Linked DNA regions of Homo sapiens: region 1 is linked to region 2. Evidence: fine-mapped expression QTL. A gene starts in region 2. The other region holds a variant in brackets. All regions are shown on one strand. Distances are from middle to middle. Region 1 overlaps STRADA (STE20 related adaptor alpha). Region 2 holds the start of STRADA (STE20 related adaptor alpha).

Region 1 (15,004 bases), 31 kb before region 2:
CACAAAGGGGGCCGGCAAACTCTGATGCCTCTCCCCTTCACCCCAGGCCAGGCTCCTGTCCGGGGGGCCCTCCCACCCAGCCGGGCACTTACATGAGAGGGGGTGGCCTGGGCGGCTCCTGCAGCCTGGAACATGGCTCGTTGGAGGTGGAAGCCTCGGGTGGAGAAGCGGCACCCGCTGGGTTCTGCAAGGGGAAGTCAGTCGGGAGGGCCCCGCCAGCCCGGCCCCAGCCTGCAGGGTGGGGGGTGTTGACAGGCAGGGGCTGGGGGGATTGCGGTTGGGACTTTCCCTAAGTCATTTCCTGTTGCTCTTGGTCTTGCCACTTCCGCCCCTCACCCACCTCCCCCACCCCTGCTCCCCAGGGGCCGGGGTCCCGAGTGGCACCGTCCCTCGGAAGAACAAAGTTAGCGGGAGCGGAGGGGCCGGGGGCTCCCGCGCAGCCGCCGTGTGCGTCCCGCGGGCTGGGACCGCTTGGGGTGAGGGGAGGTCGGGGCCGGCGGGGCCGCGATGAGAAGCCGCTGCCCCGACCTGACCCCGGCCCTCGCTGCCCTGCGCCGCGCCCGGGCGTCCAGGCCTAGGCTGCGCAGCCCCTGGACAGCGCCCGAGGTCCCCGCCCGCCCCGCCCCTCGGCCCCCGACCTGGCCCCGCGAGGACCGGACCCCAGACCCCGACGCCGCGAGCCCCGCCAGCGGGTCTCGGCTCCGCCCAGCCGGGGGCCGGCCCTGAAACGAGGACTCGAGCCTGTGCGCCCCGGGCGAGAGCGGCTCGCAGACTCGCCGGGACCCCACGGGCGGCCCTCACCCCACACCCCTCGGCGCCTCTCCCGGTTCCGGAGCCGGACGCGGCCCCTCCCCCCGCGGCTCTCACCAGGCCCGGCCTGGGCCGCGGGGCGGGATCGGTCTCCGGGGGCGCACGGGTACGAGGAGGGCGCGGGCGCGAGCTGCTGCCGCTACCAGTGGTCCCCGAGCCACCGCCGCCGCCACCGCCTTATCGCTGCACCGCCCCCGCCGGCCCCCGCCCCGCGCCCGCCCATTGGCTCCGCCGCGCCCGGAGCCGCCTTCGGGGCCCCGGCGCCGCCGCCGACCCCCCTCCGCGCTTTGTCTTCCCCTCGCCGCCGTCCCCGCCTTTGTCTGTCCCCCGCCCCGGCTCCGCGCTCCCGGCTCCGCAGCGCCCCGCGGGCCTCGCGCTCGCAGGCCTCGGGTACCGGCCGCGCCGTCTGCCCATCCCGACGGCGGCCCGGCGTGGGGAAGCAACGGTGGCAGGGACAGGATGGAAGGGCCGCGCTCCGCATCCTACTGGGAGGGGACGAGTTCAGGCTGCGGCGGCTGCGGTCGCGGGACACTGGGCGCTCCCGGCCTGGCTCCGGGATAACCGGGCGGGGCCTGGGCCATTCACTGCCTCGGTTTCCCCCGGTTGGCCTCGCGCGTAGGCGCCGGCGCCCCCATCCCCGCCCAGAGCTGTGGGGCCGCAGAGACCCAGCCGGGGCGACCCCGGAGCCTGGCCCGGGGTCCCTCGGGCGGCCGAGTCCTCCCGCCGCCAGGGGCCGCCCCCGCCCCTTTGCGGCCCACGAGGCTGGCGGCGGCGTCCGGGCACGCGGTCTCCAGGCCCGGCCGCGAGGCTGCGGGGAGGAGCCTGCACGAGGGCCCGGCAGCCCCGGCAGCCCCCCCAGCCCTCGGCGCCTCTGCAACCCTGCGACGGGCTGGGGAGGCCGGTATGCGTGGTTCCCGGAGCACCCGTCCCCCGAGGCTCCACGTACTCAAGCGTTTCTGGGGCGGAATTCTGTGGGCAGCAACGGGGGCCCCCTCTCCAACAAGCGCACCTCATTTCTCACGTGGGAGCCGCGGCCCAGAGAGCTGAGGTGACAGAGCTTGGGCCGCAGAGCTGCTCCCTCCCTGCAGCCGCACAGCAGGCCGGAGGCACAGCCGGCGAGAGACGGCCACTCGCTTTGGAGCGGCGGCGAGGCCGGCGCCTTCCCGGGCACCAGGGACTGCGTGGCTTGGCCGGAAATCAGGCTAGAAGCAGCTCCGGGAAGCACAGCCCTTAGCCCAGCGCCTTCCCACACTGTGGCAGGAATAGCACTGGCGGCCCACGCGCTTGTCAGGGAACAGAACAGCTCTCGCCCGACGCCTGGCAGGGGAGCAGGGAGGCTGCAGCTTCCCCAGCGACCAGCTGTTTCCCAGGCTGGCGGACTCCACGGACCGGCTCCGCGTCTCCTCTCCAGCCTTCTGTTCTCTCTAGAGGAAGATCTGCGTTTTGTCTGCACTGTGGGCCGACTCTCTAGTGGGGAGCGTCAGACCCTCTAAAGTGGCTGCCTCTCGGGAAAGCTTCCACACCTGTCATCAGATTCTCCAAAGGGGCTGTTTGATGCAAGAAACGGGAAGCCCCGGGGGTACTAGGAGCAGGGCTTGCTGCCATTGGGCATGGTGAGGCCCCGGCACCCTGCCCAGGACGGGCCTGTGGGCTGAGCTGCAGATGGGCATTGAGGATGCCCCAACAGCAAGGTGCAGAAGGCATCCAGAAGCAAAGGAAACTGATGACCAGCGTCAAAAACAAACAAAAAAAGGGAACTTGGCTCGGCGGTGGCTCACGCCTGTAGTCCCAGCACTTTGGGAGGCAGAGACAGGTGGATCACGAGGTCAGAAGTCCAAGACCAGCCTGGCCAACATGGTGAAATCCCGTCTCTACTAAAAATACAAAAATTATCCAGGCGTGGTGGTGTGTGCCTGTAATCCTAGCTACTCGGGAGGCTGAGGCAGAAGAATCGCTTGAACCCGGGAGGTGGAGCCTACAGTGAGTCAACATGAAGCCAGTGCACGCCAGCCTGGGCGACAGACTCTGTGTTTGTGTGTGTGTGGGGGGGGGAGGGCGGGGCGAGGCGAAGGGAACTTGAGGTTTAAAGCAGGGGGAGGAGGGCCGGAAATGCTCCCCGCCGCCCCCGACACTCACTCGCCCCAGGCCCCATCCTAGCCCAGGGTCAGTGTCATTCCCTTCACCTTAGCCTCTCACTGCCCAAAGAGGCTTACTTTTCTTCTTTAAACTGCTGTTAAAATTTGGGAGGAAACGGAAAGCAAGGGCACCTGATGGTTCAGTGCAGCTTCAGGTTAGAGGGGCATTTGAGGTGCCTGAGCTGGGGGAGGGCCTTCCCCCTGAGGGACTGGGAGAAGGGTAAGCCATGTGCCCTGGAAGCACTGCAGGGAGCCTCAGATTTGCACCCCCTGGCTCACACTCGCTGGCGCCAGCCAGCATGGCAGGGATGGGCGGGGCTGGTTCTTAGGTTTCCTGCTCTTTGGGTGCTAGCACCCAGGGTAAGGAGACACCCATGTCCGGTTGCAAGACAAACCCTTCTACCTCCTTTCCTGCCAAAGGCCACCAGCATCCTCTGCCTCAATCTCAATCTTTGGAACTTTTTAGCTCCAAAGTGGTTTGATGACCACAGGCTAAAATTCATAGTCTTAAAATTTTAGATAGTTAAGAGACAGATCTGTTACAGGTTTTCAAATAAACTGGTCTATCTAGTGTAAGAGGTCACTGCTGAGCTTCAGTGAGCACCCATGGGCCTGCTCTTGGATGGTGGGACAGCTCTCACCTGGGGCAGCACGGCCATCCCTGCAAGCACACACACCAGGAAGCAGCCTGTAGCCCCTGAGCTGACGCAGACACAATGCCATTCTCCAGCAGCGTCTCTGAAAATTTTAATTTGTTCTGACAACGAAACTAACACAGCATAAGGACTTAAGCCCTCAAGCTAGGCAAGACACTGATGGCCCTTGGAGAAAGCACCAGGGCAGCTGGCAGGAGGCGCTAAGATGGATTCTTGGTGGGAAAGGAATGAGGCACACACATAAACCGTGGGAAAGACTTAGGTGTCAGGGCCCAAGCCAGAAGAGGGATAAGGATGGACTGTTCCAGCCTTAGTCTGTGCTTAAAAAGACAGAAATGCCCTTCTCTGGAATTATGAGGGAGAGGTCTGAGGGAAGGGAGGCAGGCAGCTTACTACTTGCCCTTTCACTGACCTATAGCATCTGAGGCATCTGAGAGCAAAGTTAAATAGAATGAGGCTGGTCGCAAGCACTGGGAAGAGGTGGCGGTCCTCGGGTTTAAGGAGCCAAACCCTGGGCTTGGAATTCAGCTCCCAGGGCCAGAGCAGCATCTCTCTTCTGCGGAGGAGGTCACCTGAGCTCACAGGACTGGGAATGTCGGCTTTGGACCCTCCTGATCCCTGGTTGTTGAGATTCCCTTGTGTCTCAAAAGCCTTGGAGCAGTGAAGTGTCTCTCCAGGATTTTCTTTCCCAATCAGTCAGCAGTCAACTTTCCTGGAAGAATGTCCTTTCTACCCAATCTGCCCAGGAGGGCGGGAATGTGGCCGGCCCTCAGGAAGGGCCTCTGGGTGGCCTCTGCATCCCTGGCTGGAGAATGCGCACAGTTTGCAGAGGCTCAGAACTCCCAATCGTCCACCTCCAGCTCTTCCAGGTTTGTTACCAGGCCAAAGATTCCACTGTGGTCCTGAGACTGGCTGCCCTCAAAATTGGTGATGGGGGTGACAGGACGAAGCAATTCGGGCAAAGCCTCTGAGGCACGTCGCTTGATCTGGGGGAGAAGAGAGAGGTGGGTGACAGATCCTGTTGCTCTGGGTCCCAGGACACCATGGGGCAAGGAACCATGGCCTGGTGGCAGACGGGCTGTCGGAGCCAACTCCATGAGAGGAAGGAGCAGTGTCTTTCAGGGGCTTCGGAAGCGGGGTAGTTTCTCTCATTCAAAGGGAGGGGAGAGAAAGCTAAAGGGATTGTGAGTTGTTAGAACCAGAACTAGAACCAGAACCAGAACGAAGGGGCTACGATACCTGCTTGAAGAAAGAGTGGTTCAGGAGGGTGCTGGCACTGGGCCTGGAGGGAAAGGGGAGGAGAGACCGCAGCATCACTGCCGTGTCCCCAGCTTCCCGAAATCCTGCCACTTATGCCTCAGCCTCGGGTCCCCTCTCCCTCTCCCTCAGCTCATGGGAAGCAGTGGCCAGAGCTCCCCAGGCTGGCCTCTGACACACCCAGGAGCTGATCCCTCCTGTGTGTAGCTCCAGATTCCCCTGCAGAACCTTTGGGAGGTAAGTCCCTTCACACCCTGGCCTTACCCTCCTGAGCACCCTCTGCTCTCCCGAAGCCCAGGCCCAGGCCAGCAGGGATACCTGGCATCCGGGTTGCGCTGAAGGCACTGCTCCACAAAGTGGTGGAAGTGGGGGGAGAAGGTTCGGTGGTAGGGGTGGGAGGGCGAGTCACCGTTGGAGGGCCGGGGGGTGCTGGTGGTCAGGCTGTCACTCAGGCCAGAGTTGGCCACTGAGCGCGAAGGGCTCATGGTCAGCTCCTCAGCGGGGATGGTGCTGGTATCCAACAGGCAGGGCACTGTGCCGTTCAGTTTCTCTAGCAGCATCTGGGGAGGACAGAACCAGGACCTGGGCTGTAGCGGGTGGGGGGGGGGGGTGGTCCCTGGAAGGCCTGAGAGTCTCTTCACAAATACACTGTTCCCAATATGCAAATGTGATCATTTGAAGAGTGGAAAAGGTGGAAGTGGAGTAAGTCCAATTTTCCCAAAGAAACGCTGGTCACTGGCGTGGCAGCTCCGCCCTAGCCAGGCCAACGTGAAAGGAGAGGGGTTGCACAAAAGTACCCGCTTTCGCCATGGCTGGAAAGCAGGGCTCACAGTTTCCGCTCTCCCTTTCCAAGGCATCAAATTCCTTTTACCGTAGAGTCTTCACCCTAGAGGGAAGGAGCAGTCAGATGAACCTGCTTTGAAGCCCAGCCGTCTGCCATGCTCAGGTGGATCCGATGAGGTCTGAGAGGCAGTCCCTGCAGTGCCACAGCCTGGGCTGTCGCTGCAGCAGGCCACACGGGAGCAAGATGCCCAAGGGGAGGCCAGGCTGGGTGGCTGTTCCAAAGTACCCCAACTCAACACATATAAAACCAGCCCCACCTGGGACTGCTGTCCTCGTGGAAGTCCTCATGACCGCATAAGCTGTCCAAGCCAGAAACCTGGAAATTGCTCTAGAGCTGCACTAACGTGATAGCCACTAGCCACTTGTGGCTATTTCGATTTAAATGAGGTTTAAAATTCAGTCCCACAGTCTCACTGGTCACCTTCTAAATGCTCGACAGCCACACAGTCTCATGGCTCCCACGCTAGACAGTGCAGCCACAGAAGCCCTCCTTCGCTGCAGCAAATTCTAGTGGATGGTGCTGCTTCTAGGCCTGGACTTCTTGTTCCTCCTCAGTCACCTTTTCTTTCCTGAGCATCCTCTGTCACTGAATTATTTTACTGAGATCTCCTAGATTCCTCACATAGACTTCCATACCCACCTAACTGAGCTACTGGATCTAATCCATCTGCCGGGGTGGTCTTTGTAAATGAGCCATCTTATGCTGTCACTCCTGTGCTTAGAATCCTCAGCACTGCTCCACAGGCTTTAGGACAGGAACCAGTGCTCTAAAGTGGCATCAAAGCCCTTCACAATGTACCCTTGCTTCCTTCTGTGCCTGTCACCTGGCAGTCCCCAAGAAGCACTGCACCTTGGCCATTTATACCATTTACACCTCCTTGCTGTTCTCCAGATCTGTTTTTTCTAGACTCTGGGTCTCTGCACATGCTGCTGTCTGCCGAGAAGAGTGTCCTAGTTCCTCCTCCACACAGGTGACTGCTGTCTGCCTTCCAACTCAAGGCTGCCTCCTCCCAGGACTTCCCTGGGCCCCTGCTCTGGGGGGCTGCACTCTGGCCACCCTCCAGCTGCCCCTACCACCGGGCAAGCAGCCTGTGGGTTCCGGAAGTGGCTTAATTAGAGCCTGCATCCTGCCCCTCCCAGTTCCAGACCACACTCCAAGTAGCTGGGACCCAGGTAATCCTTGCCCAAATGACCCCAAATCCATTTTCTGGATTTAATGAGGCTTGCATAAGCCTCTTCCCTGGGTCTGTTTTCCCAAGGGTAGACTGTGCCACTGACTGTGCACCCTTGGATCCTAGGGGTGGCCAAAGGACAGGCATCTGGAGGGTCATGAACAGAAGCTGAACTTACAGAATGGGGGTTCCAAAGGTGTCAGCTGGAATGCGGTTAAGAACTGTGGGAATTCTAAATTAGAAACTGACCTTCCAGGTATATTTATCCAAGTAGGAGGACAGAACATATTTTATGCATTTATAAAAACTAGTTAGCTTAATGTATATGTTTTAAATAGACATGTAGCGTGTGGGCCTCCATTTGCACCCCTGCTCCCGGGCTCCCCTCCCCAAGCTGGCCTCCCTTACCACCAGGTTTGCCACAGGAAGTAAACAAAGAGTGAGGTCACTATCCCCCACTGGGTGGGACTTCTTGAAGGAAAAGACAGGGTCTTTCATCTTAGTATTCCTAGTCTGTGTCCTGAGTGTGAGAGCTACTCAACGAACATCTGTGGAAGGCAAGCAGGCAAGAAGGAAACCGATGGGCGGCAGGCTTACCTGGGTGGCAGGCATATCCTTAAAGGGGACATGGCCGTTGGCCAGTTCACAGGCTGTGATTCCCACACTGTAGATGTCAGACTTGGCATCATAACCCTGGAGATTCTAAGCCAGAAAAAAAAGGCCACAGATTACCCCATTTGGTCTTTGTTCTTAGAAAAAGGGTAGAACTAAAGAGAGGAAAAGGATGGCTGTCCCCACATCAGGACCTGCTGCTAATGACTCTCCTTGCCTGTGCTACTGAAGACTAACTGGTATTTTACCACCTGTAACTGGCGATGCTCTGTAAGGAGCAGGAAGTGCCAGCCCCATGCCCCTGCTTAGCACAGGGATCCAGAGAGCAGCAAACATTTCCAAAATGCTCACTCTTCTCATAGGGTGCCAAGGGTCCCTAAAGGGAGCTGAAATTTCATCCAATAGAGGTTAGGACCCCCTGGGAGGAACCACATCCATCTGCAGTGGACAGGCGCTGCCCACGCTGAGGGCTCCCTCCCTCCAGGAACCCCTTTACCCCACTGGGAGGTTGAGAGCCCCCGACTCCAGGCAATGCCTGAAGGCTCCCTTGGGAATCATGAGTTGGGTAGGGGAGCTCCTCTGGGCCCACACACAGACCTGCTGGAGGACCTCGGGGCTGAGCCACGGCAGAACCTTGACACTGTACTTGGGAAAATCGTGGACCACTCGCTGCCGCTGCCCATGGCTTATCATGCTGAGGTTGCTGCGCAAACCAGACAGGTAGACCTTCCCATCCACAGAGATCAGGATGTGGCTGGCTTTGACACTCCTGGGGAAGCGGGGAGGGTGTCATGTCGAGAGCAGGAGCCCCTCCTGCTACAAATTTTTGGTCTTCACACACTCCACCTGGCCAGCTCTCTCCTGTGTGCGTGTGTTATACACGTATATGTGTATTTTACATATACATAACCATGTTTTTGTTTTCATTGAGATAAGAGTCTCACTCTGTCACCCGGCTAGAGTGCAGTGGCTCAATCTAGGCTCACTGCAACCTCTGCCTCCTGGGTTCAAGCAATTCCTGTGCCTCAGCCAACCAAGTAGCTGGGATTACAGGT[G/A]TGCACCACCACACCCAGCTAATTTTTTTTTTTCTTTTTTTTTTGAGACGGAGTCTTGCTCTGTCGCACAGACTGGAGTGTAGTGGCGCCATCTCGGCTCACTGCAAGCTCCGCCTCCCGGGTTCACACCATTCTCCTGCCTCAGCCTCCCGAGTAGCTGGGACTACAGGCACCCGCCACCACGCCCGGCTAATTTTTTTTTTTTTGTATTTTTAGTGGAGACAGGGTTTCACTGTGTTAGCCAGGATGGTCTCGATCTCCCGACCTCGTGATCCACCCGTCTCAGCCTCCCAAAGTGCTAGGATTACCAGTGTGAACCACTGCGCTGGGCCCGCCCAACTAATTTTTATATTTTTAGTAGAGATGGGGTTTTGCCATGTTGGCCATGCCAGTCTTGAACTCCTGGCTTTAAATGATCCGCCTGCTTTGGCCTCCCAAAGTGCTGGGATTACAGGTGTGAATCACCGTGACCGGCCTATAACCAGGTTTTTTGTTCTTGTTGTTGTTGTTGTTGAGACAGAGTCTCACTCTGTCGCCCAGGCTGGAGTGCAGTGGCGCAATCTCAGTTCACTGCAACCTCTGCCTCCCAGGTTCAAGCAATTCTCCTGCCTCAGTCTCCTGAGCAGCTGGGACTACAGGCTCATGCCACCACATCCAGCCAGTTTTTGTATTTTTAGTAGAGACAGGGTTTCACCATGTTAGCCAGGCTGGTCTTGAACTCCTGACCTCAAGAGATCCACCCCTTGGCCTCCCAAAGTGCTGCCACTGCATCCAGCTATAACTATGTTTTAATGAAAAACTTCAAATCTACATAAAATAGCATGACTCCATTTACATATCACCAGATTAAAAGCTTATTTAGCTCTGTCATCCAGGCTGGAGTGCAATGGCACGATCTCAGCTCACTGCAGCCTCCACCTCCCAGGTTCAAGTGATTATCTTGCCTCAGCCTCCTGAGTAGCTGGGATTACAGGCACCTGCCACCATGCCCGGCTAATTTTTGTATGTTTAGTAGAGACAGGGTTTTGCGATGTTGGCCAGGCTGGTCTCGAACTCCTGACCTCAGGTGATCCACCCACCTTGGCCTCCCAGAGTGCTGGGACTGTTCAGTGCTCTTGTATGCTCTAGAACACCTCTTGCCCTACCTCCTACGAATGCTTTTAATCTGTACTTCTTATCTGTAGGACTCTTGTAAAGTGTACCTAGGGGTACTGTGTTCCGCATCCCATTCTTCCTTTTTCACTCAGGGCTGTAGTTTCCAGACACATCTGTATTGCTAGCTGTGTACCTTTCATCTTTTCTTCTAATTGTCACCTTGGTTCTGGGAAGAGATCTAACACTTTTACTCATCCATCCTTCTGGGGACAGACACTCACACTACCCCTAACCAACACACGTGTGAATGGTGACATCCAAACATGTCCCCTGATGGGTCTGCACGAGGGTTTCTTTAGGGTGTACATCCAGAAGTGGCATTGATGGTTCTGGTTCTGTGACCCTGACTGGCAGCACCGGGCATCTTCCACCACCTGGACAGGAGGCTCCCCGTCCTTGCCACACTGGGACTCGTCCAGCCTCCCAACCGCTGCCAGTCTCATGTGTATAAGGTGACATCTTGTTTTTCATTTGCTTTTCTCTGATTGCGAGATTTGAGTGGCTCTTCCTATGATGGGTTTGTCTTGGGGTTTCCTCTTTTGTAAACTTCATATCTTTGGCCCATTTTTCTTGCTTTGCTGTCCATTTCTTGTTGATTTGCAAGATTTCCCTGTTACTAATCTCCTGTGGTGACAAAGCTAATATCATCTGCTCTGTCACTTGTTTCTTAACCTTTTTCATGGTATCTTGTATTGGATAGAAATCTTCTTGATCTAATCAAATTCATCAATCTTTTGTCTTATGTTTTGTGCTTCTAAAATGTTGAGAAATTATTACATGCCTCAGGTCACAAAAACATTTTCTCACATTTCCTTCTATTTAAGTCTACAGTTTCACATTTTACATAGAAGCCTTTAATCCAGCTGCAGTCCTTCTCTGTATGAGGAGTTATGTAGGGGTCCAGTTTTACCATTTTCCCTACTATGAGCTGATTTCCTGACACTATCTACTAAGCTATCTGTCTTCGCCCTGGTCTCTCAGCATAAGACTGACTCTGGGGCACAGAAAGAAGGAGGCAGAGAGTGGAGTACAAAGGTCCACATCAGATGTTCCTCTCACACAACACTCAAGACCAAGCTGCTCAGCAAAGAGAAAGTCAGTGGCTTCAGCACTAACAGGCTAAGTGACCATCTCCCAAGTCAGTGGCAAGGTCAGAATCCAGATCCTTCTCTCTTTTTTTTTTTTTTTTTTTCAGACAAGAGTCTCACTCTGCCACCCAGGCTGGAGTGCAGTGGTGTGATCTCCAGTCACTGCAACCTCCGCCTCCCAGGTTCAAGCGATTCTCCTGCCTCAGCTTGTAGTCCCAGCTACTGGGACTACAAGCATGTGCCACCACACCCGGCTAATTTTTGTATTTTTAGTAGAGACAGGGTTTCACTATGTTGGCCAGGCTGGTCTCAAACTCCTGACCTTGTGATCCACCTGCCTTGGCCTCCCAAGCGCTGTGATTACAGGCGTGAGCCATCGCGCTGGGCCCTGTTTCTTTTCAGAGCAAAGAGATCTTCAGCAAGAATCCAGATCCTTGATTTTAAACTCTGGCTTCATTAACTTCAGTCAAACTTCACTTTACCTGAAGGCTCAGGGGCATAGCTACCCACTGTAATCATGGGAAAGGCCGCCTAAGAACGCACCTGTGTACATATCCCATGTGGTGGATGTAGTCGAGGGCCTTCAGCACCCCCTGCAGGATGTAAGCAATCGCCAGCTCATTCATGCCATCCATGAAGTGTGTACAGATGAGATCTTTTGCAGAACCTGCAGAAAAGGATTGCATGGAGGCAGTGAAAGGTAATGGAGGAGGAAAACACAGGCAATCTGACAACAGAGTCCCAATAACCCCTTTCTACCAAGAACCCTTTCCCACTCACCGTATGCCATGAATGATGTGACAACCCACAGCTCATTGTCTGCAATAAAAGTGGCTCGATATGGCACGATATTGGGATGGTTGAAGAGTTTGGAGACATGCAGCTCGCCCTGGAAGCAATGATGAAGCTGAAGTCAGAACCAAATGGCACTGAAGGATGCCGCTCAACACAAAGATGGCAGCATGGACAATAGGGGGACCTGGCACTTTCTGGGTGTTCTCAGAGTCATGGGAACAGCCTAAGCAGGTGCCTGCCAACATAGGAAAAACAAGGCCCTGCTGCCTCTGCAGGGACCCAGCACTGCTTTGCCTCTGCCAGATAGGGAAACTGCCAACAACAAAGGGTGCCAGCACACCGACTCAGAGATGATGAAGGCAAACTGTTGACTGAAGACTTCTGAAGTTATAAGCTTATCTCAATTTCAAGGGCCAACGTATAGAATTCCTCTTTAAGATAAGAAAACAAAAAATATTTTGTTGTTGTTATTTGTAGAGACAAGGTCTCACTGTGTTGCCCAGGCTGGTCTCAAACTCCTGGGCTCAAGCAGTCCTTCTGCCTCAGCCTCCCAAAGTGCTAGGATTATAGGCGTGAGCCACCAAGCCACTGCACCTGGCCAAAAATGTTTTCTTTTTTATTTTTTTGAGACAGGGTCTTGCTCTGTCACCCAGGCTGGAGTGCAGTGGTGTGATCCCGTCTCACTGCAGCCTGAACTTCCCAGGCTCAAGTCATCCTCCCACCTCAGCCTCGCTGGTAGCTGCGACCACAGGTGGACGTCAACATACCTAGCTAATTTTTTATATTTTTTTGTAGAGACAGGGTTTTGCCATGTTGCCTAGGCCTGCTTTGGCCTCCCAAAGTGCTGGGATTGCAGGCGTGAGCCACTGTGCCCAGCCCAAAACTATGTTTCTATTATAAAAGAAAACATGGCCGGGCATGGTGGCTCACGCCTGTAATCCCAGCACTTTGGGAGGCGAGGCAGGCAGATCACTTGAGCCCAAGAGTTGGAGACCAGCCTGGGCAACATGGCGAAACCCCATCTATATGAAACATACAAAAAATTAGTTGAGCATGGTGGTGCATGCCTTTAGTCCCAGCTACTCGGGAAGCTTAAGTGGTAGAATCACCTGTGCCTGAGCAGTTGAGGCTGTGGTGAGCTGTGATTGCACCACCGCACTCCAGCCTGAGCAACAGAGCCAGACCTTGTCTCAAATAAAGAAAAAAAAAAGAAAAAGAAAACACAGTTGATGGAGGAGAAGGCCAGCTGAGACTGGCTTCTGCTCCATCCTCAGACCCACCAAACTACTATGAACAGATGAACAGGTCCTAGAGCACCATCAGGTAACCACCAATTCAGAAAAAGTTGTAAATGAAGGAGGGGAGGGGCTGCAACTAACTCTACTGAAGGAAAACTGCCCCAGGCCCTGACTCTAAGCTGGCATCAGGAAAGGAGAGTCTAACTCCCAAGCACTTACTAGACTCACAGTCTCTCTCCGTTTTGTTTTGTTTTATTTTTTGAGCCAGGGACTCAGTCTGTCACCCAGGCTGGAGTTTGGTAGTGCAATCTCAAACTCCCGGGCTCAAGCAATCTCCCTGCCTTGCCCTCCCAAAGTGTTGGGATTACAGGCATGAGCTACCATGCCTGCCCCCTCTCTCAGTTTAACGAGAGAGTGGCTACTTGCTTCTCGAATAGAAAGGAATGTCAGGACTGGGCATAGTGGCTCACACCTGTAATCCTAGCATTTTGGGAGACTGAGGTGAGTTGATTGCTCGAGCTCAGGAGTTTGAGACCAGCCTGGGCAAGATGGTGAAACTCTGTCTCTACAAAAAATACAAAAATTAGTCAGGTGTGGTGTGCCTATAGTCCCAGCTACTTGGGGGGCTGAGGCAGGAGAATCATTTGAGCCCAGGAGGTTAAGGCTGCAGTAAGCCGTGGTCCTGCCACTGTACTCCAGCCAGGGCAATAAAATGAGACCCTGTCTCGAAAAAAAAGAGGCCAGATGCGGTGGCTCACATTTGTAATCACAGCACTTTGGGAGACCAAGGCAGGCAGATCACCTGAAGTCAGGAGTTTGAGACCAGCCTGGCCAACATGAAGAAACCCCGTCTTTTCTAAAAATACAAAAGTTAGCCGGGCATGGTGGTGTGCGCCTATAGTCCCAGCTACTCGGGAGGCTAAGGCAGGAGAATCGCTTGAACCTGGGAGGTGGGGGTTGCAGTGAGCCGAGATCGTGCCACTGCACTCCAGCCTGGGTGACAGAGTGAGAATCCGTCTCAAAAAAAAAAAAAAAGAAAAGAAAAAGAAAGGAACATCAGGCAAACAGGAGGCTGAGAGCCAGAAGATGGCCACTGGTGGCAGGGCAGGCACCTTGTGTCTGGAACAAGATGGCCTGGGTTTGAATCCTGCCTCTGCCATGAGCAAGTTACTTAGCTTCTTTCTAAATAATAAATAAATGAATAAAAAAGCCAGAAGGGAGTGTTTGGAGAAGAAAAGGGAAATATAAATTAGGCTGAGCAGCATTTCAGCCCAATCCTTAGTGCCAAATGGCCAGGATTCTCCACTGAAAGCTTCCATAACTTCCGAACGTTTAGTCTCCCTTCATTTCTTTGTAATTCCTTGTAATTCCTATCAGAGCCAAGAGCCCACCCTCCCTCCATGTGACACACTCATGGTTTATTACCTGCAAGAATGTTACCATCTCATTGGAACAAGCTTCTAGGTTAATCCTCCGTACAGTCACGTACTCTCCTGTTGGTTTGTACCTTGCTAGATTCACAGTCATCAGGTCCTCAAATCCTTTGCCTAAAAGAAAAAGGGAATGCCATACGCAAGGACAAGAACAACAAAAGGTTTTAAGAAAATTTTCCTTTAAAAAAGGGACTTGATTTCAAAAGAAACTTAATGTTAAATTTTTCACTACTGTTACTTTTTTTTTTTTCCTTTTCCCAGCAGAATTTAACTGTTATGTTCATGGCTCACATTTCTTGATTTTTCTCTCATCAGTTCCTTCTCAGCCAACCTTTCTGACTCACTATGGCCAGGACACCGGAAACATGGCAGCCACAAAGGAAAGATGGCAAAAGAGCTTCTTTCCTGGAAGTTTGATCTCTTCCCATACTTGGCATAAAAAAACAGAGAAGACCCACAGAAGCAAGTCTGTGCCCATGAATCCTCCTAACTAGTGGATGGCCTCTGCTGTACACACATCTGGGGCTGCTGAGAAAGCTGCAGCAGCCCCTGGAGCAGAAAGCAGGAGAGTAAGGACGGCCCCTGCACATACCTATCACAGTGAGCAGCTCGTAACACCCTCCCTCTGGCAGAAAGCTACTCATGACCTCCTGTTTAGAGAAGGATGCTATTGACTCTGAGCTCGCATCATTGGTCTAAAAAAGAAAAAGAAAAATAGGTTAGTAGAGAAAACTGGGGGTGGGATGGGAGTGGGG
Region 2 (15,004 bases):
TGCTTGGTTTCCCATATAGCTATTATTAACTTTTTACAAACACGCCAACATCTCTGCTATTTGCCTTATCAATGTATTTTTCCATACCCTCAAACCCATCAATTAGAATTTTCTCCTGGAAGTTGCCTTCATAGGGCCCTCCGGTCTCCTGCTACAATCTGGACTAACTGCTTTTTAGGCCAGTTGCACTTAGTTGACTTTTTTTTTTTTTTTTGAGGCGGGGTCTGGCTCTGTCATCCAGTCTGGAGTGCAGTGATGTGATCTCTGCTCACTGCAACCTCTGCCTCCAGGGCTCCAACCATCCTCCCACCTCAGCCTCCTGAGTAGCTGGAACTACAGGTACATGCCATCATGCCTAATTTTTGTATTTTTTGTAGAGACGGGCTTTGCATTGTTGCCCAGGCTGGAGTGTGGTGGCGCGATCCTGGCTCACTGCAACCTCTGCCTCCCAGGTTCAAGTGATTCTCTGGCTTCAGCCTCCCGAGTTACTGGGACTATAGGTACGCGCACCACTACACCTGGCTAATTTTTTTGTATTTTTAGTAGAGACAGGGTTTCACTATGTTGGCCAGGCTGGTCTCGAACCCTTGATCTCAGGTGATCCACCCACCTTAGGCTCCCAAAGTGTTGGGATTACAGGTGCGAGCCACTGCGCCTGGTCTCAAGCTCTTGAGCTCAAGCAATTGTCTGCCTCAGCCTCCCAAAGTGCTAGGATTACAGGTGTGAGCCACTGCGCCTGGCCCTACCCTGATATTCTTTTTTTTTGAGATGGAGTCTCGCTCTGTTGCCAGGCTGGAGTGCAGCGGTGATCTTGGCTCACTGCAACCTCCGACTCCCAGGTTCCAGCGATTCTCCTGCCTCAGCCTCCTGAGTAGCTGGGACTACAGGCGTGCGCCACCACACCCTGCTAAGTTTTGTATTTTTAATAGAGACGGGGTTCCACCATGTTGGCCAGGATGGTCTCGATCTCCTGACCTCGTGATCTGCCCGCCTCGGGCCTTCCAAAGTGCTGGGATTACAGGCGTGACTCACTGCACCTGGCCCTGATATTCTTTCCTTTTTTTTTTTTTTTTTTTTTTTCTGAGACGGAGTCTTGCCATGTCACCAGGCTGGAGTGCAGTGGCGTGATCTCAGCTCACTGCAACCTCCGCCTCCTGGGTTCAAGTGATTCCCCTGCCTCAGCCACCCCAGTAGCTGGGATTACAGGCATGCGCTACCACACCCAGCTAATTTTTTGTATTTTTTTAGTAGAGGCGGGGTTTCACCATGTTGGCCAAGATGATCTCGATCTCCTGACCTCGTGATCCGTCCGCCTTGGCCTCCCAAAGTGCTGGGATTACAGGCATGAGCCACCGCGCCTGGCCGGCCCTGATATTCTTATAGAAGCTCCTTTTCCAACCCCAGCTGAGAATCACTCATTTATCTTGTCACAAAATTTTAAAAATATAGATTTGAAAAAACATGATTAGAATGCATATTTAATAGTATTAAACACAAAGCATCATGCAAAAGAAATTTAAGAGGAAAAAAGGTCCATATCCTCATGTAGTCTACAATAGAAAGAGAAAATTAGTGTAAAGAGGCAGATAGATGTTTTTATCTGCAAAAAAAGTTTCTATGGTCTGGAAAAATTTTGGAATTTAAAAATAAAATCAAATTTTCTTTCTTTCTTTTGTTTTTTATGAGACAGGGTTTCATTCTATTGCCCAGGTTAGAGTGCAGTGGCACAATCTCGGTTCACAGCAACCTCTGCTTCCCAGGTTCACGCCATTCTCCTGCCTCAGCCTCCTGAGTAGCTGGGACTACAGGCGCCCGCCACCACACCCGGCTAATTTTTTTTTTGTATTTTTAGTAGAGACAGGGTTTCACCATGTTAGCCAGGATGGTCTCGATCTCCTGACCTTGTGATCCACCCGCCTCGGCCTCCCAAAGTGCCGGGATTACAGGCGTGAGCCACCGCGCCTGGCCTAATTTTTTGTATTTTTAGTAGAGACGGGGTTTTGCCATGTTGCCCAGGCTAGTCTCAAACTCCTGAGCTAAGGCAGTCCACCCGCCTCGGCCTCCCAAAGTGCTAGGATTACAGGTGTCAGCTACCGCACCTGGCCAATAGTGGCATATTAAAAACCATTCTTTTTTTGGAGACAGGGTCTTGCTCTGTCACCTAGGCTGGAAAGCAGTGGTGTAACCACGGCTCACTGCAACCTCAACCTCCTGGGCTCAAGCAATCCTCCTACCTCAGCCTTCTGAATAGCTGGGACCACAGGTGTGAGAAGCTGCCTGGCTAGTTAAAAAAAAAAAAAAAATTGCTTGTGTAGGCCGGGCGTGGTGGTTCATGTCTGTAGTCCCAGCACTTTGGGAGGCTGAGGCAGATGGATTTCTGGAGCTCAGGAGTTCAAGACCAGTGTGGGCAACATGGCGAAAGCCCATCTCTACAAAAATATAAAAATTAGCCAGGCATGGTGGCATGTGCCTGTAGTCCCAACTACTTGGGAGGGTGAGGTGGGAGGATACCTTGAACCTAGGAGGCAGAGGTTGAAGTGAGCCACGATCGCACCACTGCACTCCAGCCTAGGTAACAGACTATGTTGTCCAGGCTGGTCTTGAACTCCTGGGCTCAAGTGATTCTCCTACCTTGGCCTCCCAAAGTGGTGAGACTAACAGTATGAGCCACCACACCCAGCCTAAAAACCATTTTCTTTTTGGGGAAGGACAGAGTCTCGTGCTGTTGCCCAGGCTGCAATGCAATGGTGTGGTCTCGGCTCACTGCAACCTCCACCTCCCAGGTTCATGCGATTCTCCTGCCTCGGCCTCCCAAGTAGCTGGGATTACAGGCACCCGCCACCACACCCAGCTAGTTTTTTTGTATTTTTAGTAGAGACAGGGTTTTACCATGTTGGCCAGGCTAATCTTAAACTCCTGACCTCAGGTGATCCGCCCACCTCGGCCTTCCAACTAAAAACCATTTCCTAAGAAGATTTTGGGCCTGCCAATGGGCACAAGCTAGACACACTTTTGCAAAGAGATAGGATACCCTTCTGTTCAGGTATGAATCTTTATCAGACTCCTCAATGTTCACTACTAAATGTTTAAGACATATGGGTCATATATAACTGACAATAAAACAGCAGTAATCCTGGTATTTGTCAGAATACAATCTTTTTTTTTTATTTCCTTTTAAAAATTGTATTCAGTTCTCTTGCTTTTTCTTCTTCCTTTTATCTTTGCTTTTCTATTCTTGTTTATCTTATTTTTCATCTCAAGTGGAACTGGCTCAAAGAATACAATCTTCAACCCACTCCCATTCCCATATCTCTCAAAAGACCAATTTAAAGAAATAGTATTTACAGACTGGGATTCTGCAGAAGAAGGGTTAATATAGCAGGCCTAACTTCTTATCCTTTAAAAAGTCTGCTTACGTGGTTAGCCACTGGCTGGCATTGGGGAACTTGGATTTTGAGAGATTTCCCATTTTCCTAAAAATGACAAGAGTGGCTTATTATGCCTAAACTATTTGTACAAACAGTATGGTTTATGCTGAACACCTGCTTTCCTTCTGGGAGTCCAGTTTTGATACATGCCAGGCACAGGCTGCCTACATGACCATCCTGGGTATGGAGTTTCTAATGAGCTTTCCTGGTTGATAACATTTCACACATGCTACCACAACTTCTTGCTTTGAGTCCTGTGTCACTCTACTGGGGAGGATCCTTGGAAGTTTGCTCCTGGTTTCCCCCAGACTTCACCCCATGTGCTGTTTCCCTTTGCTGGTTTTTCTTTGTATTCTTCTGTTGAAATAAATCCTAGCCATGAATGTGACTATATGCTGAGTGCTGTGAGTCCTCCTAGTGAATTACTGAACCTGAGGGTGTTCTTGGGAACCTCCAATACAGGGATACCTGAAGGAAATTATTTTAAATGTTCTAAATCTATTCCTGGATTAAGGCTGGCCAATGGATGGCTACAGGCCTAGGTCTTACTCTATTTGCCTCCAATAAAATTATTTTTACTGAACTGTACTTGAATAGCCTTTATTTTATATCAAAAGCTCTAAGAAACTTGTCACTGTTTTCAATAAGAATGTTCTAAAAATGCTTTTATTACTGTGTTCACTAAATGAGAAGAGGCAGAGGAAATGTCATTCTGGATTAAGAATCAGGGATAGGTTGGGCACGGTGGCTCATACCTGTAATCCCAGCACTTAGCAAGGCTGAGGCAGGCGGATCACTAGAGGTCAGGGGTTAGAGGCCAGCCTGGCCAACATGGTGAAAACCCCATCTCTATAAAAAATACAAAAATTAGCCGGGCATGGTGGCACTGGCCTGTAATTGCAGCTACTTGGGAGGCTGAGAATCGCTTGAACTCGGGAGGCAGAGGTTGCAGTGAGCCGAGATTGCGCCACTGCACTCCAGCCTGGATGACAGAGTGAGACCCTGTCTCAAAAAAAAAGAAAAAAGAATCAGGGATACTTTTGCTTTTTCTGAATTTTTGCCAAACTAACTTCAACCTTGACCAAATTAATCTTTCCCTAACAGCATTTACCACATGTGTATTTCAGTCCTATGTAAGAAAATGGTAAAGACACACAAAGAACTTGGAAATGTTTCAAAGATAGTAAAGATTAATTTAGAAAAATAGAAGCTATTAGGAAAGGTTAACATCTAGAAAAGAGCAAATTTGGCTGGGCACGGTGGCTCACACCTGTAATCCCAACATTTTGGGAGGCCAAGGCAGGTGGATCACCTGAGGTCAGGAGTTCAAGACCAGCCTGACCAACAGGGAGAAACCCCGTCTCTAATAAAAAATATAAAAATTAGGCATGGTGGCGGGCACCTGTAAGCTCAGCTATTTGTGAAGCTGAGACAGGAGAATCGTTTGAACCCAGGAGGGAGAGGTTGCAGTGGGCCGAGATCGTGCCATTGCACACGCCAGCTTGGGTGACAGAGCGAGACTCTGTCTCAAAAAAAAGAGTGAGCTAATTTCACCCATAATGTTACTATACAAATCGTAAGAATAATCAATAAGGTTAAAACATGGCTAAAGGCTCATTAAGAGTAACCTGAAGTCAGAGATTTATACTTAAGGGTGACAATATGGCGTAGTAAAAAAAGCACATACTCTGAAATAAGACGAGCATGGTATGAATTGCGTTCTTGCATCTGTGTTAACTTGATCAGCATACTTTGGCTTGCCGAATCTCAACGTTAATAACTCTAAAATGAGGTTAATGACATCCGTCTGACACCTGAGACAAATATCTTTCTCCCTCTGATAGTGATGCTTATAATAATGGCTTATGTTTCTAGGAGAGACCTTAAAATTAACTTTTTCAGAGAATTAGAAAGATTAGATTTCAGGTTTCTGATTTAAGATTTTAGAATCTCACCTCTCTCCCAAGGTCCCAATTAAGGCAAAGGAATACAAATAATAACCATATATCTGAGGACAGAATGAGAGGAGCTATTAGATGAAATTTCAATAAATTTCTAGGAGTTGAAAAGTGGACATAAGGGTGCTGTCTCAGGAAATGGAGAGAAAGCTGCAGGCTAGAATGTGAATGGAGAGTATAGTAGAGGAGACGGCAGATATGCCCAGCAGACAATCCTAAGGGGTTCTGAAACAAAACTGCGCAATAAGGAATGAGGGAAGGAGAAGTGGGGCTGAAAACAAGCCCCTGGCGTAACTGCCCACTCATGTCCATGAGTCTTAAATCCACAGAGCTCCCAGTCAGCAGCTTTTCTATTCCTCTTTTTTTTTTGAGACGGAGTCTGGCTCTGTCGCCCAGGCCAGGCTGGAGTGCAATGGTGCGATCTTGGCGCACTGCAACCTCTGCCTCTTGGGTTCAAGGGATTCTCCTGCCTCAGCCTCCGGAGTAGCTGGGATTACTGGCATGTGCCACTACGCCCGGCTGATTTTTGTATTTTTAGTAGAGACGGGGCTTAACCATGTTGGCCAGGCTGGTCTCAAACACCTTAGGTGATCCACCCGCCTCAGCCTCCCAAAGTGCTGGGATTACAGGCATGAGCCACTGCACCCAGCCCCATACACGGTTTTTAATGAAATTATTTTAATGTACTCCAAATAATATTCCAGTAAAATGAGGCTAAAATTTAAAAAGGAAGCTATGAGATATAAAAAGTGGTGTGTCCAGCCGGGCGCGGTGGCTCACTCCTGTAATCCCAGAGCTTTGGGAGGCTGAAGCGGGTGGATCATCTGAGGTCAGGAGTTTGAGACCAGCCTGCCCAACATTGCAAAACACTGTCTCTACTAAAAATACAATAATTAGCCAGGCATGTTGGCAGGTGCCTGTAATGCCAGCTACTCGGGAGGCTAAGGCAGGAGAATTGCTTGAACTTGGGAGGCAGAGGTTGCAGTGAGCCAAGATCACGCCATTGCACTCCAGCCTGGGTGACAGAGTGAGGCTCTGCCCCAAGAAAAAAAAAATAATAATAAAGTGGTGTGTCCACTGAAGAGATATCTCAAGATGATAGCTACGAAGCTGATCAAGAAAGGAATCAGTCAAAACTAGAACATGAAGTTGGCAGGTTGAAGAAAATATAATAATATCATGAAATATACAGATTATAAAGGATGAAAAATATCACGGACAGGGTGGAAAGTGGCCTATTTCTTCCCCCCACGCCCCCCCCACCAAAAAAAAATCAAGCAGAAAGGCAACCAAAAATTCCAACAGAAATTAAAACTATATTTTAAAAGTCAAAGTCCGAATTTGAAACAAACTTAAATGTGTTACAATTTTTAGATAGCATGGCTGGGCACAGTGGTCCACGCCTATAATCCCAGCACTTTGGGAGGCTGAGGAGGGCAGATCACCTGAGGTCAGGAGTTCAAGACCAGTCTAGTCAACATGGTGAAACCCTGTCTCTACTAAAAATACAAAAAGTAGCTGGGCATGGTGGCACATGCTTGTAGTCCCAGCTACTGGGGAGGCTGAGGCAGGAGAATCGCTTGAACCTGGGAGGCGGAGGTTGCAGTGAGTCAAGATCATGCCACTGCACTCCAGCCTGGGTGACAGAGCAACACTCTATCTCAAAAAAAAAAAAAAAAAAAAAAAAAAAAATTGAGATAGTTCAGCAAGGAATGAGAAAGAAAATCCACTTGACCTTGAATGAGAAGGAAGTTAGGACAGTGGACCGCAGTGCAGAATAACACTTGGCTGTTTTGTGAATAATACTTACAATACTGTTAAGTGCTCATCATCAGCTTATAAATTTTAAGTCTATAGACAAAGCATGATAAACTTAATTACAGTTATAGAACACAATGTAAATGCCTTCAAATTTGATAATATGAAAGTAAAGTTTCACCTGACAGAAGATGGGAAATGGAACAGGGAAGAGATAGAGGAATGACTGGGGAAGCTAATACCCCTATCTTCCTAAGAAGGTAAAGTTAATACTGAAAGTTGATAGGATAACAAATAGAAAGTTATGTACAATATTTAAGGTTACAAAGGTAACCAACAAGTGTAAAAATAGAGGGATTCAACTATCAAAAGTTTGGAGGTGCTGGTTGGGTACAGTGGCTCATGCCTGTGTTCCCAGCACTTTGGGAAACAGAGGTGGGTGGATCACTTGAGCCCAGGAGTTTGAAACCCCAACTCTATAAAAAATAAAAAAACTGGCCAGGTGTGGTGGCATGTGCCTGTGGTCCCAGCTACTCAGGAGGCTGAGACGGGAGGATCACTTGAGCTCCAGAGGTGGAGGCTGCAGTGAGCTGAGATTGAGCCACTGCACTCCAGCTTGGGCAACACAGAGGGACCCCGTCGAAAAGAAAAGAAAAGAGAAGAGAAAAGAAAAACGAAAATAAACGAAAAGAAACGAAAAGAAAAAAGAAAAGAAGGGGCTGGGCACGGTGGCTCACGCTTATAATCCCAGCACCTTGGGAGGCCGAGGCGGGCAGATCACAAGGTCAGGAGTTCGAGACCAGCCTGGCCAATATAGTGAAACGCCGTCTCTACTAAAAATACAAAAATTAGCCGGGCATGGTGGCGGGCACCTGTACTCCCAGCTACTTGGGAGGCTGAGGTAGGAGAATTGCTTGAAACCGGGAGGCGGAGGTTGTAGTGAGCCGAGAGTACACCACTGCACTCCAGCCTGGGCGACAGAGCGAGACTCCGACTCAAAAAAAAAAAAAAAAAGAGAAAAGAAAAAGAAAATGAAAAAAAGAAAAAGTTGGGAGGCAGTGAGGAGGGGGTGGTGTGAGATTCAGCATGACCTTTACTCTCTTGGAAAAATAAGGAGAAGCTTCACTAGTCATTTCTCTGTCTCTCCTGTCAGTGGAAAGTCTAAACATGTTGTTTAGAATTACAGAAGTCCATCATTAAAGGACTAAAACAAAAAATGATTAAATTAATTGAGGCCAGGCCCAGTGGCTCTGCCTGTAATTCCAGCACTTTGGGAGGCCAAGGCAGGCAGATCTCCTGAGCTCCGCAGTTCCACACTGCCCCAGGCAATATGGTGAAACCCCATCTCTCCTAAAATACAAAAAATTAGCAGGGTGTGATGGCATGCACCTGTAGTCTCAGCTACTCGGGAGACTGAGGCAGGAGGTTGCAGTGAGCTGTGATTGTGCTACTGCACTCCAGCTTGGGCTGCAGAGTGACACTCCATCTCAAAATAATAATAATAATAATAATAATAATGGGGAACAGGCCGGGTGCGGTGGCTCACGCCTGTAATCCCAGCACTTTGGGAGGCAGAGGCGGGCAGATCACGAGGTCAGGAGATCGAGACCATCCTGGCTAACATGATGAAACCTCATCTCTACTAAAATTACAAAAAAAATTAGCCGGGTATGGTGGCGGGCGCCTGTAGTCCCAGCTACTTGGGAGGCTGAGGCAGGAGAATGGCGTGAACCTGGGAGGCGAAGCAAGACCGTGCCACTGCACTCCAGCCTGGGCAACAGAGCGAGACTCCATCTCAAAAAAAAAAAAAAAAAAAAAAAAGGGAAATAGACACAGGGATGGAGAGAGATAGAGATGAGACTGGTATTTTTCTTTATAGCCCCCTATACAATTATTTTAATAACTGCACACAGGTATTTTCTTTGATAAAATCTTACTAATAAATTTCATCTGAGCTGGTTTAGAGTAGCTCTACCTAGTGATTAGCAGTAAATGGTATACAAATTATGAAGGACTTTTCTATTTTCAGATTGAATCATGTACAGATGAACTTGCCCAGGCTGGTCTCAAACTCCTGAACTCAAGCAATCCTCCTGCATCAGCCTCCCAAAGTGCTAGGATTACACCATGCCCGGTTATCTGTATGACATTAACATCATCACTCTGCTCCCTTCAAATTTCCTTAAAATGCAAATGTAAATGTCCTTAAAATGTAAATTCTAATGGAAGGGGAGGGCAGATGGATATCATTCGAAAGATATATCCACACTTATCAAAAATTAAGAAATACATATGTATGTGTATATTATATATTATGCATATATGTATATATTATATATGTACATAGTGTATTAATATGTATACATATATAATTTTATGTGTATATATTATGTATACATATTGATACATTATATATTTATGTATATATGTACATATATACATATAATGTACATAATTATATGTATATACATATAATGTACATAATTATATGTATATACATATAATGTACATAATTATATGGCCCGGGACGGCTGCTCCGACGAAGGCCCGGGCCTGGGGAGATGGAATCGGTGGCAGAGCGAGGAGTGACTGGCTCCGGCAGTGCACCAGGCACCCCGCCAGGCAGGTACCTGTTCCTGGTTTCAAACTCCGGAGCTCAAGCAATCCTACTGCCTCAGTCTCTCAAAGTGCTGGGATTACAGAGGTGGGCCACGGTACCCAGCCTATCAGAAACATTTAACACTATATATATATATATATATATACATACATACATATATATATACACATACATATATATATATACACACACACACACACACACACACACACACACACACAACAAAGCAATATTACTAGTGGACAGACATAGAAATAGCTTTATTGGCCGGGCGCGGTGGCTCACGCCTGTAATCCCAGCACTTTGGGAGGTCGAGGCTGGTGGATCACCTGAGGTCAGGACCTCAGAGATCGGCCTGACCAACATGGTGAAACCCCGTCTCTACTGAAAATACAAAAATTAACCAGGTGTGGTGGGGGGTGCCTGTAATGCCAGCTACTCGGAAGGCTGAGGCAGGATAACTGCTTGTACCAAGGAGGCCGAGGTTGCAGTGAGCGGAGATCGCGCCATTGCATTCCAGCCTGGGGGACGAGGGCGAAACTCCATCTCAAAAAAATTAAAATAAAAATAAAGAGAGAAAATAATAAACCCAGCAAACATTTATGGCAAACTTCCTACGTGTCAGGCACTGTGCTAAATGCTTCATGAGCAGCTCACAAGTATTATCATCTCTGTTTTACGGATCAGGAAATTCAGGTGTGCAGGGAGGTTAAATGCCCAAAGTCACACAGATAAGTGGTAGGGGACTAATTAAATCTGTTCCAAAGCCTGCGCTCTAAAAACCAGAGTAAACTTCCTCCATTTCTGGGGCCACAACTATAAACACTGCATTCCAGCCAAAACACCTCTAAGAAATCTGATTAAAAAGTAGGGGACAGATTTGACCAGTTCAGCACTGTAACTAAAGGCTGAATTCACAGGCTTTTGGCAGGTGATCAAATTTGGTTTCTTCCTTAACTCTCAGGGACAAGAAACAGTCCTGGGTGTCTTCAGGAAGGTATGAGTGTCAATGAAGAATTGTCTTAACGTCGCATATACGTATTGGAACATGCTTCTACTTGAACAGATATTACAATAAGAAAAGGGCAAATTCCAACGGCTCTTTCTCCGGGAAAGTCAAGTTAAAGTATGTTAGGATACAGGAGAAGGCTGGGCAGAGAGGTTAGTTCCCTATTTCCTGAGAACTATGAACAATTTTACCTACCCACTGCCCCTCCCTCGAGCTCTCTTCCTTATCCCCAACCCCCATCTCCGGCGCCCAAATCCCCTGCAGGCACCCAAAAAACATTTCTGGAAAACAAAAAGACAATGAGCTCTTCGTTTAGGCCGATTCTGGGAGTCATCTGGATCTTGTGTCCTTACGAGGACTTGACCCGCTGCCTGTCAGCCCAAAGTGCGCGGCGGCTGGGGACAGCGGGGAGCCCAGGACCGGGGTCGGCCGCCACTCTGCCTGAACAGGACAAACCGGCACCCAGCCCTAGGTTCCCCACCTGGAAGTCCTAGGGGGTGGGGAGGAAGGGGAAAGCAGGAGCCCGCCTCTCTCGCCCGGCAACTCCGCTTCAGCGTCTCCCCGCCAGGCCCAAGCCTATTCTGCTCTCGGGCTGCGGCGCCTCATTGCGGGAGTCGAGGACGCGGGTTAAAAAGGGGGCCCGTGGAGGGTGAGGTGAGCCCAGGATGGCCGCTCCGACGAAGGCCCGGGCCTGGGGAGATGGAATCGGTGGCAGAGCCAGGAGGGACTGGCCCCGGCAGCGTACCAGGCACCCCGCCAGGCAGGTACCTGTTCCTGGAGTTAGCAAGCAGCCCCGACCGTCTTGGCTCCGCCTCCTCAGTTTTACTGCCGCGCCGCCGCCAGACCGGTTGCTGGGAGGGGAGTACGCAACGTGCCATGCGCAGTGGGGCGACCGGGAGGACTGATAGAGCGCTCCGCCCCACCCCGCCCTGCGGGGAAGTCCCGCCCTTTCCGAGTGGCCGCGGCTGCGGCAGGCCCTAGCAGCCGCCGCCGCGCCGAGAGCGGTTCTCAGTTCCCGTTGTCTTTCCCGCCGCGCAGCGCTTCCGCCTACAGCCTCCGCCCCCGCAGCAGGAGGGGGAAGCAGGTGGCTTCAACAATGAAGGACCAGAGAAAGGCAAACTTGGCTGTTCCTGAGAATTGTGTTTTTCTCATTTCATGTGGTAGGACTTCTAATGGAAAACCCGCCTCGCACTTTTCTTGGACGACATCTCAAATGCCCCTCACTTTGGCCTCTCGGGCACCAGACAACAAGCTGCAAAGGGGAAGCCCATCCTTTCTTTGCTCCCCACTATTTGTAAAACAAGGAAAATAGCTCAACTAATGAAAACGATCTTGTCCCCTCAGTATCTTTTTTTTTCCCCCGAAGCCTTCCTCATCCACAGCTGAAGCCGTTTGTGGAAACCTATCAGGTTTGTCCAAGCCAGGTTATGCAGAGCTTGAGAAATGAGGAAGCGATGAACTAAGCCTCACTCCTGTGAGACTAGGTTTTTCAGTGACTTATCCCCCGCGTGCGCAGGAGGGGGTATCCAAAACGCGGATATATACCATCAGGTAATGAACACTCGCTCTTGCCAGCTCTGAGCTTTGACACAGATTTAGACCGTCCTAACTTCCAAGACTGGGGGAGGAGTTTAGCTACATCCAAGTAGGGACTTATAGAAATATGCCCCTGGAAGGCCGGGCGCGGTGGCTCACGCCTGTAATCCCAGCACTTTGGGAGGCCGACGCGGGTGGTTCACTAGGTCAGGAGATCGAGACCATCCTGGTTAATACGGCGAAACCCCGTCTCTACTAAAAGTACAAAAAAATTAGCCGGGCGTGGTGACAGGCGCCCGTAATCCCAGCTACTATGGAGGCTGAGGCAGCAGAATGGCCTGAACCCGGGAGGCGGAGCTTGCAGTGTGCAGAGATCGCGTCACTGCACTTCCAGCCTGGGCGACAGAGCGAGACTCCGTCTCAAAAAAAAAAAAAAAAAAAAAGAAAAAAAGAAATATGCCCCTGAAACTGTGGGACCTGTATGCACATGAGTTCTCATTTGATCTTACATACATCACTTTGATTTTTTTTTTTTTTTTTTTTGAGATGGAGTCTTGCTCTGTTGCCCAGGCTGGAATGCAGTGACGTGATCTGGGCTCACTGCAACCTCTGCCTCCTGGGCTCAAGCAATTCTCCTGACTCAGCCTCCCAAGTCGCTGGGACTACAGGCGCACGCCACAACGCCTGGCTGATTTTTGTATTTTTAGTAGAGACGAGGTTTCACCATATTGGTCAGGCTGGTCTTAAAATCCTGACCTCAGGTGATCCACCAGCCTCGGCCTCCCAAAGTGCTGGGATTACAGGTGTGAGCCATCTGTGCTGGGCCACATCATTTTGATTTTATCGAGTGCTTTGACATTGCTAAGGGCTACCCTCACATGCTCTCATTCTCAAAATAAGATGCCACTCTCAGGAGCAAACTTGGTAAACTCACAAAGCAACAGAGTATAAACAGAGAAGTAAAATTTCTAGCAGTGTTCTACTGAAGGGTCTTTCACATGTGGTCTTTTGGAACCGAGTATTAGAGAGACTGTCTGAAAAGATGCTAAACTTCTTGCAGCCATTACAAATGGGTAGAGAAAACATATTGTCTCAGAACTGTTCTGTTTTAGCAGTCTGTAACAGAAGACACTCCTATGGGTATAACTCTTTTTTTTTTTTTTTTTTTGAGACGGAAGTCTTGCTCTATTGCCCAGGCTGGAGTGCAGTGGTGCAATCTTGGTTCACTGCAACCTCTGCCTCCTGGGTTCAAGCGATTCTCCTGCCTCAGCCTCCTGAGTAGCTAGGATTACAGGTTTGTGCCACCGCACCCGGTTAATTTTTGTATTTTTAGTAGAGACGGGGATTTGCCATATTGGCCAGGCTGGTCTTGAACTCCTGACCTCATGTGATCTGCCTGCCTCGGCCTCCCAAAGTGCTGGGATTACAGGCATGAGCCACCGCGCCCGGCCTCTTGTCTCTCTTACATCGTTTCACATCATTCAAAATGAGAGGAGGCAGGAATGGTAAGGAATGAGAACCTGGGATGATAAAGCACAGTGTTTCACCTCTTCCTGCCAAATCCACTGGATTCTTGTACAACACAATTCTAAACAATTCCTACTGAATTGCCAATTCCTACTGAATGGGTGGAATAAGAAATCAATGTTTTTCTTTGGTCTAAATTCCATCTAAAGAAAGGAGTTAGGGCCAGGCGCACTGGCTCACGCCTGTAATCCCAACACTTTGGGAGGCCGAGGTGGGTGGATCACGAGGTCAGGAGATCGAGACCATCCTGGCTAACACAGTGAAATCCCATCTCTACTAAAAATATAAAAAATTAGCAGGGCGTGGTAGCACACATCTGTAGTCCCAGCTACTCTGGAGGCTGAGGTAGGAGAATTGCTTGAACTTGGGAGATGGAGGTTGCAGTGAGCCGAAATTGCACCACTGCACTCCAGCCTGGGCAACACAGTGAGACTCCATCTCAAAAACAAAAAAAAGAGGAGTTTCACATCTGGTCTTTACAGGAAAAGGTTTGCTACTACTAAGGAAACAGAATCATAAGCTACTCCCCTCTTCCTCAAAAAATACCCTATCAATTTTTGCAGATAAAGAACTCTGAAAGGATCTGCTTGGTTTCCATTGGGAGAAAGAAAAGCAAAAGAGAGTAAAGCAAGAATGCATCACTTGGAGACCAGTCCTAGATGATGCCTTATACTTGCAAAGTGCTTAAACAGTTTACAAAACAATCTCACATATATATTTTCTCTTAGTGTTCAACTACCTGTGAAGCAGGCAGGGCAAATAATTACTATCCTCACTTCACATTAGGTTAATAACTTGCCGAAAGTCAAAGGATTAGTAATTAGTTCTGCTGGCACTAAAAGCCAGGTCTTTGTCTTACAGTCCAGTGCTTATTTTGGCATTGCTAAACATCCAGGCAATGCAAATGAGATTGGAGACTTAGTGGTTTTCCAGTTTGTGACACTAAACAACATCCTCCTCTCTTTGTCCTCGCATTCACAGGAGAGTTAATGGAGTCTTAAGAGGTGGAATGCAGGGAGGAGCCCATAAATAACATATGGGGCTCTAAAAATATAAAATGTTTTTAAAATGATTGAATGGTAATAACAAAAGGAATATTCAGATGAACTCTTTTGAAGGAAAAGCATTTCAGTGCTGACTTTTATCGAACAGAAAGAATTTTCCTCTG

What was found. PIP is the estimated chance that this variant, and not a neighbour inherited with it, causes the effect.
Region 1: its variant is fine-mapped to the expression of STRADA in whole blood (TOPMed, PIP above 0.99).

What each region holds. Positions count from the first base shown.
Region 1 is chr17:63,699,165-63,714,168 of GRCh38, forward strand. It overlaps STRADA (STE20 related adaptor alpha), which reads right to left. Exons shown (of 13, transcript NM_001003787.4): 5 at 14,842-14,944; 6 at 14,242-14,363; 7 at 11,564-11,672; 8 at 11,327-11,450; 9 at 8,083-8,254; 10 at 7,471-7,575; 11 at 5,177-5,418; 12 at 4,841-4,883; 13 at 3,668-4,587. The coding sequence ends at 4,435. LIMD2 (LIM domain containing 2) reads right to left here and starts at 961. Exons shown (of 5, transcript NM_030576.4): 1 at 868-961; 2 at 93-184. The coding sequence starts at 134. It overlaps LOC729683 (a long non-coding RNA gene), which reads left to right and starts at 1,174. Exons shown (of 1, transcript NR_046273.1): 1 at 1,174-3,521. RefSeq lists silencers at 1-69, 160-619, 710-1,669, 2,860-2,939, 11,165-11,459 and enhancers at 1,374-1,959, 1,960-2,544, 2,340-2,439. The variant G/A (reference allele first, on the strand shown) is at 8,541.
Region 2 is chr17:63,730,200-63,745,203 of GRCh38, forward strand. It overlaps STRADA (STE20 related adaptor alpha), which reads right to left and starts at 11,600. Exons shown (of 13, transcript NM_001003787.4): 1 at 11,542-11,600. RefSeq lists an enhancer at 9,726-10,225 and silencers at 10,091-10,259, 11,763-11,882.